Linked DNA regions of Homo sapiens. The protein of the gene in region 1 purifies or fractionates together with the protein of each later gene. This does not show direct contact. Each region holds a gene or a part of one and is shown in the gene's direction. Other genes may lie near its edges.

The links.
Region 2: the proteins of C2orf76 (region 1) and RBP7 fractionate together in Homo sapiens (co-fractionation; one large-scale study listed by BioGRID). This does not show direct contact.

What each region holds. Positions count from the first base shown.
Region 1 is NC_000002.12:119,335,835-119,339,334, reverse strand, and holds part of C2orf76 (UPF0538 protein C2orf76), read left to right. Parts: intron 1-3,500.
Region 2 is NC_000001.11:9,996,075-10,000,027, forward strand, and holds the start of RBP7 (retinoid-binding protein 7), read left to right. Parts: upstream 1-1,153; 5' UTR 1,154-1,184; coding exon 1,185-1,257; intron 1,258-1,607; coding exon of another isoform or gene 1,608-1,956; exon of another isoform or gene 1,957-2,015; intron 2,016-3,953. Other genes in the region: translation initiation factor IF-2-like, read right to left, coding at 645-778, 1,608-1,956. UniProt on the Homo sapiens protein: Intracellular transport of retinol.

The sequences.
Region 1 (3,500 bases):
TATGCATGAAGTTAGTCTTCATTCTGTTATGTCCTCAATGGGTTTCTCTTCTCCATTTTTAATTATTGAAGTGTTCCAATCATCGAACTTTGAGAAAACATCTAAAATAAGGTTTCATTACTTTAATTGAAGTGTTATTTACATATGGTGCAATCTGCAGATTTCTTGTATAGTTCCATTGCTTTTGACAAAGGTATTGCTTTATATCCAATGTAATTTTTTTACTTTGACATGATTTCAAACTCATAGACAAGTTGCAAGAACAAGACAAAGAATTCCTGGATGTTCTTCACACAGATTCCTTGTGTTAACATTTTGCTATGTTTGTTTTATTCCTGCGGAGGCCAAAGCAACTCCATCTTGGATACTGATCTGCCATATTGACTTCTCATTAGCCCCAGTTTCAAGATACCTCTAAGATTTCCAGGTTATCTACTATTCCCTATGTAAGAACAGGTACTTACTATAAATCCTGACCTTAGGTCAAGCAACCTTGATGTTATTGTACTTTGCTTGCCCTACACATCCCTTCAGATCACCCTTTCCCTATGATATAAGCCCTGGGTCTGGGGGGTAGTGGTGCGTGGATCCCTTGTCTTGTCCTGCCAAAGCCTGAGACACAGACATGGCTTCTGTTTGTAAGTTCCTATTAAATATGTCTTTCTAAGAAACTGAATATGTCAGCCTCTTTCTTCAGCCTCTCAGTTTCCTCGGACTTTCTGGGGCAGGTTCACATAGACCTGCTCACCTTGAAACAATTCCTCACTCTCTCCCCTCTCTCCTCTTCCCCTTTCTCTCTCATTCTCCTCACTCCCCCAGATTAGGTAGCATCCTCAACAAAGAACAGTAAAATTTTAGAGAAGTGACAAGACAAAGGAAATGAACTCTAAATCTCTCAGGGTGACAACTTGTGGGAAACTGAATACTAAGGCTAGTTAGTAAAGCTCGTTAATGTGGATTCTCTTGTGCTGTCTCCAGACTGATAGGGGTCTAAAGTTGTCTTCAGTGATTAACCTTTGTTTTCCTTGGGAGAGAGGTGGGCAGGATACCTTTTCTCTTTGTAAATCTATTATATGTCCTGATTTTAGGCAAACGGAGGGCCGAGAGCTTTCCTCCATCTGCTGCTGCTTAATTGCCTTTAGCTCAAAAAAAATCCTTAGCTAAAGAGGCATATTTTGGGGGGCACTTCCTGGTCTCTGACAGTGTCAATTAGAAAGTGTCCTGCTTTTGAAAGGTCATTACCCAAAGCATAGTCAGAGTTTGAAATAGAAACAAATCCGTACTTTTTTATTTTATAATCTTTGTGTGTATTGTGGATTACAGTGTTTCTTAATGTTGACACAGCAAGTGCTATGATGTTCTTTGTACAGTACAGACTAGGTTCTTGAAGTCCTTGAGAATAAGATGTATTTTCAAGCTGCTGCAATGGCAGGGGAAGATGTCTTTTTTCCAGGGTCACGGTGTTCTTTTCTTTCCAGGTACCACAGATACCTTCCCCAGCAGAGCAGTGGTACTGGTCACAGTGAGATGCTCAGACCCACCTACTCACACCTTTCATCTGCAGTGGGAATAACAGCCACTGCTTGTTTCAATTGTGCACTTAGGGAAATGTGTTCCACTGACTAAAAGGTGAACTTTTGGGGTACAGACTTTTCTGAGTTGTGGGCTCTGTGTCCAAGCCTATCTTTGTCATCTGATTTGAGGTACTATGGAACTCTGAAAGGTTGGTGGGCCACAGATTTGCCTTTTATGAATTGTGTACATAACAAAGACCAAACAGTTTGATAGTGAGGGATTTTTGAAATATGTAATAATAATAATGATAGCAAACATTACTCTGTATCAGGTACTATACTAAGAATTTTACCTAGATTATCTCATTTCATCCTCACAGCATCCCTCTAAAGTTGGAACCATTTTACAGGTGAAGAAACTAAGGAACAGAGGGGTTAAGAAGCTTGCCTGGCCACCTGCAGTGGCTCACATCTGTAATCCCAGCAATTTGGGAGGCTAAGGCGGGAGGATCACTTGAGCCCAGGAGCTTGAGACCAGCCAGGGCAACATAGCAAGACCCTGTCTCTCCAAAAAAAAAACAAAACAAAACCCCAAAAAACTAGCTGGGCATGGTGGCATACATCTGTAGTGCCAGCACTCAGGAGGCTGAGGTGGGAAGATCGCTTGAGCCCATGAAGTTGAGGCTGCAGTGAGCTTTGATTGCACTACTGCACTCTAGTCTGGACCACAGAGCAAGCCTGTGTCTCAAAAAATAAATAAATAAATAAATAAATAAATGAAACTTTCCTGATGTTGCATGGGTAATAAAAGGCAAAGCTGCAAATCAACCCAGGCATGTTAAGTGTCAAACATGTACTCTTACTAAACACTGCACTAAATTGCTTCTTTATTCTTCTCTACTGCCTCACTTGCTTGAGTGGGATCTCTGAAATAAATGGATGGACTCCGTGTCAAAAGGGTCTTTGAATTTAGTTCATCTTGCTCTAGCATTTTGAGTGCTGAGTGCTAAAGAGATTGTCTGACATAGTGGCATAGGGAATTTTGTACAGATACAGAAATGGGCATTGTGAAGAAAGATCTCTTGGAGTTATTTTACACACTTTATTGCCTTTCTTTCTTTCTTTTTAAATTAAATTTTATTTTTCGATCCTCCTCCCTCCCCAAGGCTTTCTAAATGTTCTTTTCTTTCGTAGTCATGTTTTGCCATCCACAGGTTAACCTAGTTACCTGCCATAATTGTTTGTATTTTCTCCTCAGCCAAAAAGTTTTGGTTAAATTTTATTCATTCCCCATTGAGAATCACAGCCCTAGAGCATCATCACGTCATCAAAACCTTAAGTCATATAAATATAATAAATATAAATGTATATATTTACATATAAATATAATAAACCTATTTCTGATGTATGATAAATTTATTTATTTATTTTGAGACAGAGTCTCGCTCTGTTGCCCAGACTGGAGTGCAGTGGCGTGGTCTCGGCTAACAACCTCTGGCTCCTGAATTGAAGCGATTCTCCTGCCTCAGCCTCCTGAGTAGCTGGGATTACAGGTGTGCGCCACTATGCCTGGCTAATTTTATATTTTTAGTAGAGATGGGGTTTCACCATGTTGGTAGGCTGGTCTCAAACTTCTGATCTCAAGAGATCCGCCTGCCTCAGCCTCCCAAAGTGCTGGGATTACAGGTGTGAGTCACTGTACCTGGCCTGGGAAATGGATATTAATCAAATATTATGATCATAGAGGTATCATAATATATTACCATCTATAGATGACTGTATTTTTTAGATTCAGAATACTAGACAAACCAATTATCTAGATAACATAAAATTATTTTAATTATTCTTAATTTGCAAGCATTTCGATTCTTACTAATACTTTAGATCTGGTTTCCAAATGTAAAGTCATCCCAACTATGAAAAAGAACACTGTGGAAGCTCTGTCCAACCTTCCAGTTCAGTCTGATGTTTTTCTCATGGTTAGAC
Region 2 (3,953 bases), on another chromosome or scaffold:
GCCAAGGCGGGCGGATCACAAGGTCATGAGATCGAGACCATCCTGGCTAACACGGTGAAACCCCGTCTCTAATAAAAATATAAAAAGTTAGCCGGGCGTGTTGGCGGGCGCCTGTAGTCCCAGCTACTCGGGAGGCTGAGGCAGGAGAATGGCGTGAACCCCGGAGGCGGAGCTTGCAGTGAGCCGAGATCTCTCCACTGCACTCCAGCCTGGGCACAGAGCGAGACTCCGTCTCAAAAAAAAAAAAAAAAAGAAAAAAGAAAGAGTGAGACTCTGTCTCAAAAGAAAAAAAATAAAAATAAAATCAATAAGTCAGTCTTGGAGCCAGCATATCTAGGCGGTGTTTGTGGCTAATGTTGTAGGTTAGCCCATATTCCCACCCCTTCTCCTTTGCTTTTCTCTGCTCTGAGGCTAAATGCTGCAGACTAGAATCCCCAGGCCCCCTTGCAGTTAGAAGTGGCATTGATACAGTTTTGGCTAATGAAATGTACACAGAAACCTGCTGGGTAATTTCTTTTCTTTTTTCCAACTATCCAGACTTATAGGAGATGGGGAGGTTTGTGCTGCAGGGATACTGACCTTTGGTGCTTTCCCTCTTCCCTACCTTGAATGTGGATGTCCTGGCTGGGAACCCAGCTGCCAGCTCATGACCAGGAGGTAACAAGCAGGAATAAAAGGCCACCAGAGTCACAGAGACGAAGCTGCGGCGTTACCGAGGTGCGAATCACTGTGATTCCTAGGTGCGAATCATCACCAGCAATCACTTCTCTCAGGACTCCTTGTTAAGAAAAATAAACTCCTATTTATTGAGACCATGAGAGTTACGTTGAGAGGTATATTGTTATTGAAGCTGACAATATTCAATGCCATGAGTTTGAAGATCATCCCTGGGTCATTAACATATAAGCAGGGAAGAAAATGTGGCCCGAAACAGTCTGGGACATGAGAAAGCAGTAGGAGAGGAAGCCCCAAGGAAAGGGGGAAGCTGCCGCGCGGTGGGCAGAGCCAGGAGCACCGGGCTGAGGCGGCCGGGAGCGCAGCGGCTTCTAGGGGTGAGTGGGACCCACGCGGCCCCACCTGCTCCTCCCGCGCGCGGCCCCACCCCCCTGCCCCGCCCCGCCTGGTTTATAGGTCCCGGCCCGAGCCTCCGGCCGCCCGCCGGGTTTGTCCCGCGATCCCCGACCATGCCCGCCGACCTCAGCGGTACTTGGACCCTGCTCAGCAGCGACAACTTCGAGGGCTACATGCTGGCCCTAGGTAAGGCGGAGGGGAGGCGGCGGCGGCGCGAGGCTCGCCGTGGGTCTCGGGATCAGGCGAAGGCGGCCGGGCCGGGCCTGTAGGTACGTCCTCTGTCCGTGCCTCCGCCCTGCTGCGCCCACCGTCGCCCAGTCGCCCCCGAGTCCGCTGGTCCTTGGCGCCTCCGTCCATCGGGCGCGGGACCCCAGTCCTTCAGTCCCCCAGTCCGTCCTTTCCCGCGCCCACCCGCCCCCCTGTCCCCACGGCCGTCTCTCCACGCCCTCTGTTCCCCCGGCCGTCGGTCCCCCACCCGTCCGTCCCTGAGTGCCCGCGTCCAGCCCCACGTCCGTCTCTACCCGCACGCGGCACACCTGCGGAGACTGCAGACTCGGGGTCCGGCCGGGGAGGGGGGTCCGGCCGGGGAGGGGGCGCCCGGGACCGAAGCCTCTGCCCGGCCACCCTCCCCGCAGCCGCCTTCCGTGCAGGCCCCGGGGCCCCGGGCGCGCTCCCGCAGCGAAGTCCCAGCAGCCTCGGCGCACCCGGAGCGGGTCGGGGATGCAGAATCCTGGAGCCAGCGGACGACCCTTCAGGTCCGGGCACCCGCGGGAGTGCAGAGCCTGGTTCGGCCCGGGGCGTGCCCCGACCGCCGCCTCCCACGAGGGCTGGGTGCCCGCGGCGTTCTTGCTCCCGGGGGCCCCGCGCTGTGCTTCCCGCCCTCATCGCGGTGCCAACGGTGCGCGGACTCTCAACTCACTGCAACCTCCGCCTCCTCGGTTCAAGCGATTCTCCTGCCACAGCCTTCCAAGTAGCTGGGATTACACGCGTGCGCCAGCCACCACGTCCGGCTAATTTTGTACTTTTAGTAGAGAAGGGGTTTCACTATATTGGTCAGGCTGGTGTCCAACTCCTGACCTCAGGTGATCCACCCGCCTTGGCCTCCCAAAGTGCTGGGATTACAGGTGTGAGCCACGCGCCCTGCCACGAGTGTAGTTTTTCTTGTAGCTTTAGGAATCTGGGAAGTTGCCGTGCCGGCCAATCCCTGAACCCTTGACCCGTGGGCAATTTTTGTTTTCTTTTTTTCTTTCTTTCTTTCTTTCTTTTTTTTTTTTTTTTTTGAGACGGAGTCTCGCTCTGTTGCCCAGGCTGGAGTGCAGTAGTACGATCTCGGCTCACTGCAAGCTCCGCCTACCGGGTTCACGCCATTTTCCTGCCTCAGCCTCTCCGAGTAGCTGGGACTATAGGCGCCCGCCACCACGCCCAGCTAATTTTTGTATTTTTTAGTAGAAACGGGGTTTCACCATGTTGGCCAGGCTGGTCTCGAACATCTGCCCTCGTGATCTGCCCACCTTGGCCTCCCAAAGTGCTGGGATTACAGGCGTGAGGCACCGCACCGGCCAATTTTTGTTTTCTTAACCTTAGGGCCCATCTTAGTTGATAAAGGGGCATTTATTTTGCTCTTTCATATCCCAAGAGATAAGAGTGTTCCTCTGGGTATGGGAAAAGCACCTCTCACTTGAGAGTCTTATGATCTTCTTCAGAGGAAGAGCAGAGAATTCTTTTATGGCCTGCTTCAGGGAAGAGGGGCAAAAGAAGGTCTGAGGGGGACCTTCCTGCTACTGTTATTTCCTCAAATGCCAAGTGATATGGTTTGGCTGTGTCCCCACCCAAATCTCATGGGAGTTGTAGTTCCCATAATTCTCATGTGTTGTGGGAGGGACCTGAGGAGAGGTAATTGAATCATGGGGTAGTTTTCCCCACACTGTTCTGGTGGTAGTGAATGTCTCATGAGATTTGATGGTTTTACAAGGGGTTTCCCCTTTCATTTGGCTCTCATTCTCTCTTGCCTGCCACCATGTAAGACGTGCCTTTTGCCTTCTGCCATGATTTTGAGGCTTCCCCAGCCACGTGGAACTGCGGCAGTTAAACCTCTTTTTCTTTATAAGTTACCCACTCTTGCCAGGCTCGGTGGCTCACGCCTGTAATCCCAGCACTTTGGGAGGCTGAGGCGGGTGGATCAACTGAGGTCAGGAGTTCAAGACCAGCCTGGCCAACATGGTGAAACCCCGTCTCAACTAAAAATACCAAAAAGAAATTAGCTGGGCATGGTGGCGGGCGCCTGTAATCCCAGCTACTTTGGGAGGCTGAGGCAGGAGAATCACTTGAACCTAGGAGGCAGAGGTTGCAGTGAGCTGAGATGGTGCCATTGCACTCCAGCCTGGGCAACAAGAGTGAAACTCTGTCTAAAATAATAATAATAATAAGTTACCCACTCTTGGATATGTCTTTATCAGCAGCGTGAAAATGGACATAAGGTGCCATGTTCTGAGGTCGCCTATCCAGAAACCCTTAAATCCAGAACGGTTTTCTGAAAACCAGCAACTGTGTTTCAACTTCAGATCTAATTTGTTAAAGTACTAAGTACTTACATCAATTTGTTAAAGTGCTAAGTACTTAGGTCACACTTATAGCACTAGAGTGGTTGTTTACATAATACTGTAATACTCTTTTTTTTTTTTTTTTTTTTTTAGATGGAGTCTGGCTCTATTGCCTAGGCTGGAGTGCAGTGGCGCGATCTCGGTGTGAGCCACTGTGCCCAGCCATAATACTATAATACATTTTATCTTAAGAATTAAGTTGGTCTGGGTGCAGTGGCTCACACCTGTAATCCCAGCACTTTGGGATGCTGAGGCAGGTGGATCATGAGGTCAGGAGTTCAA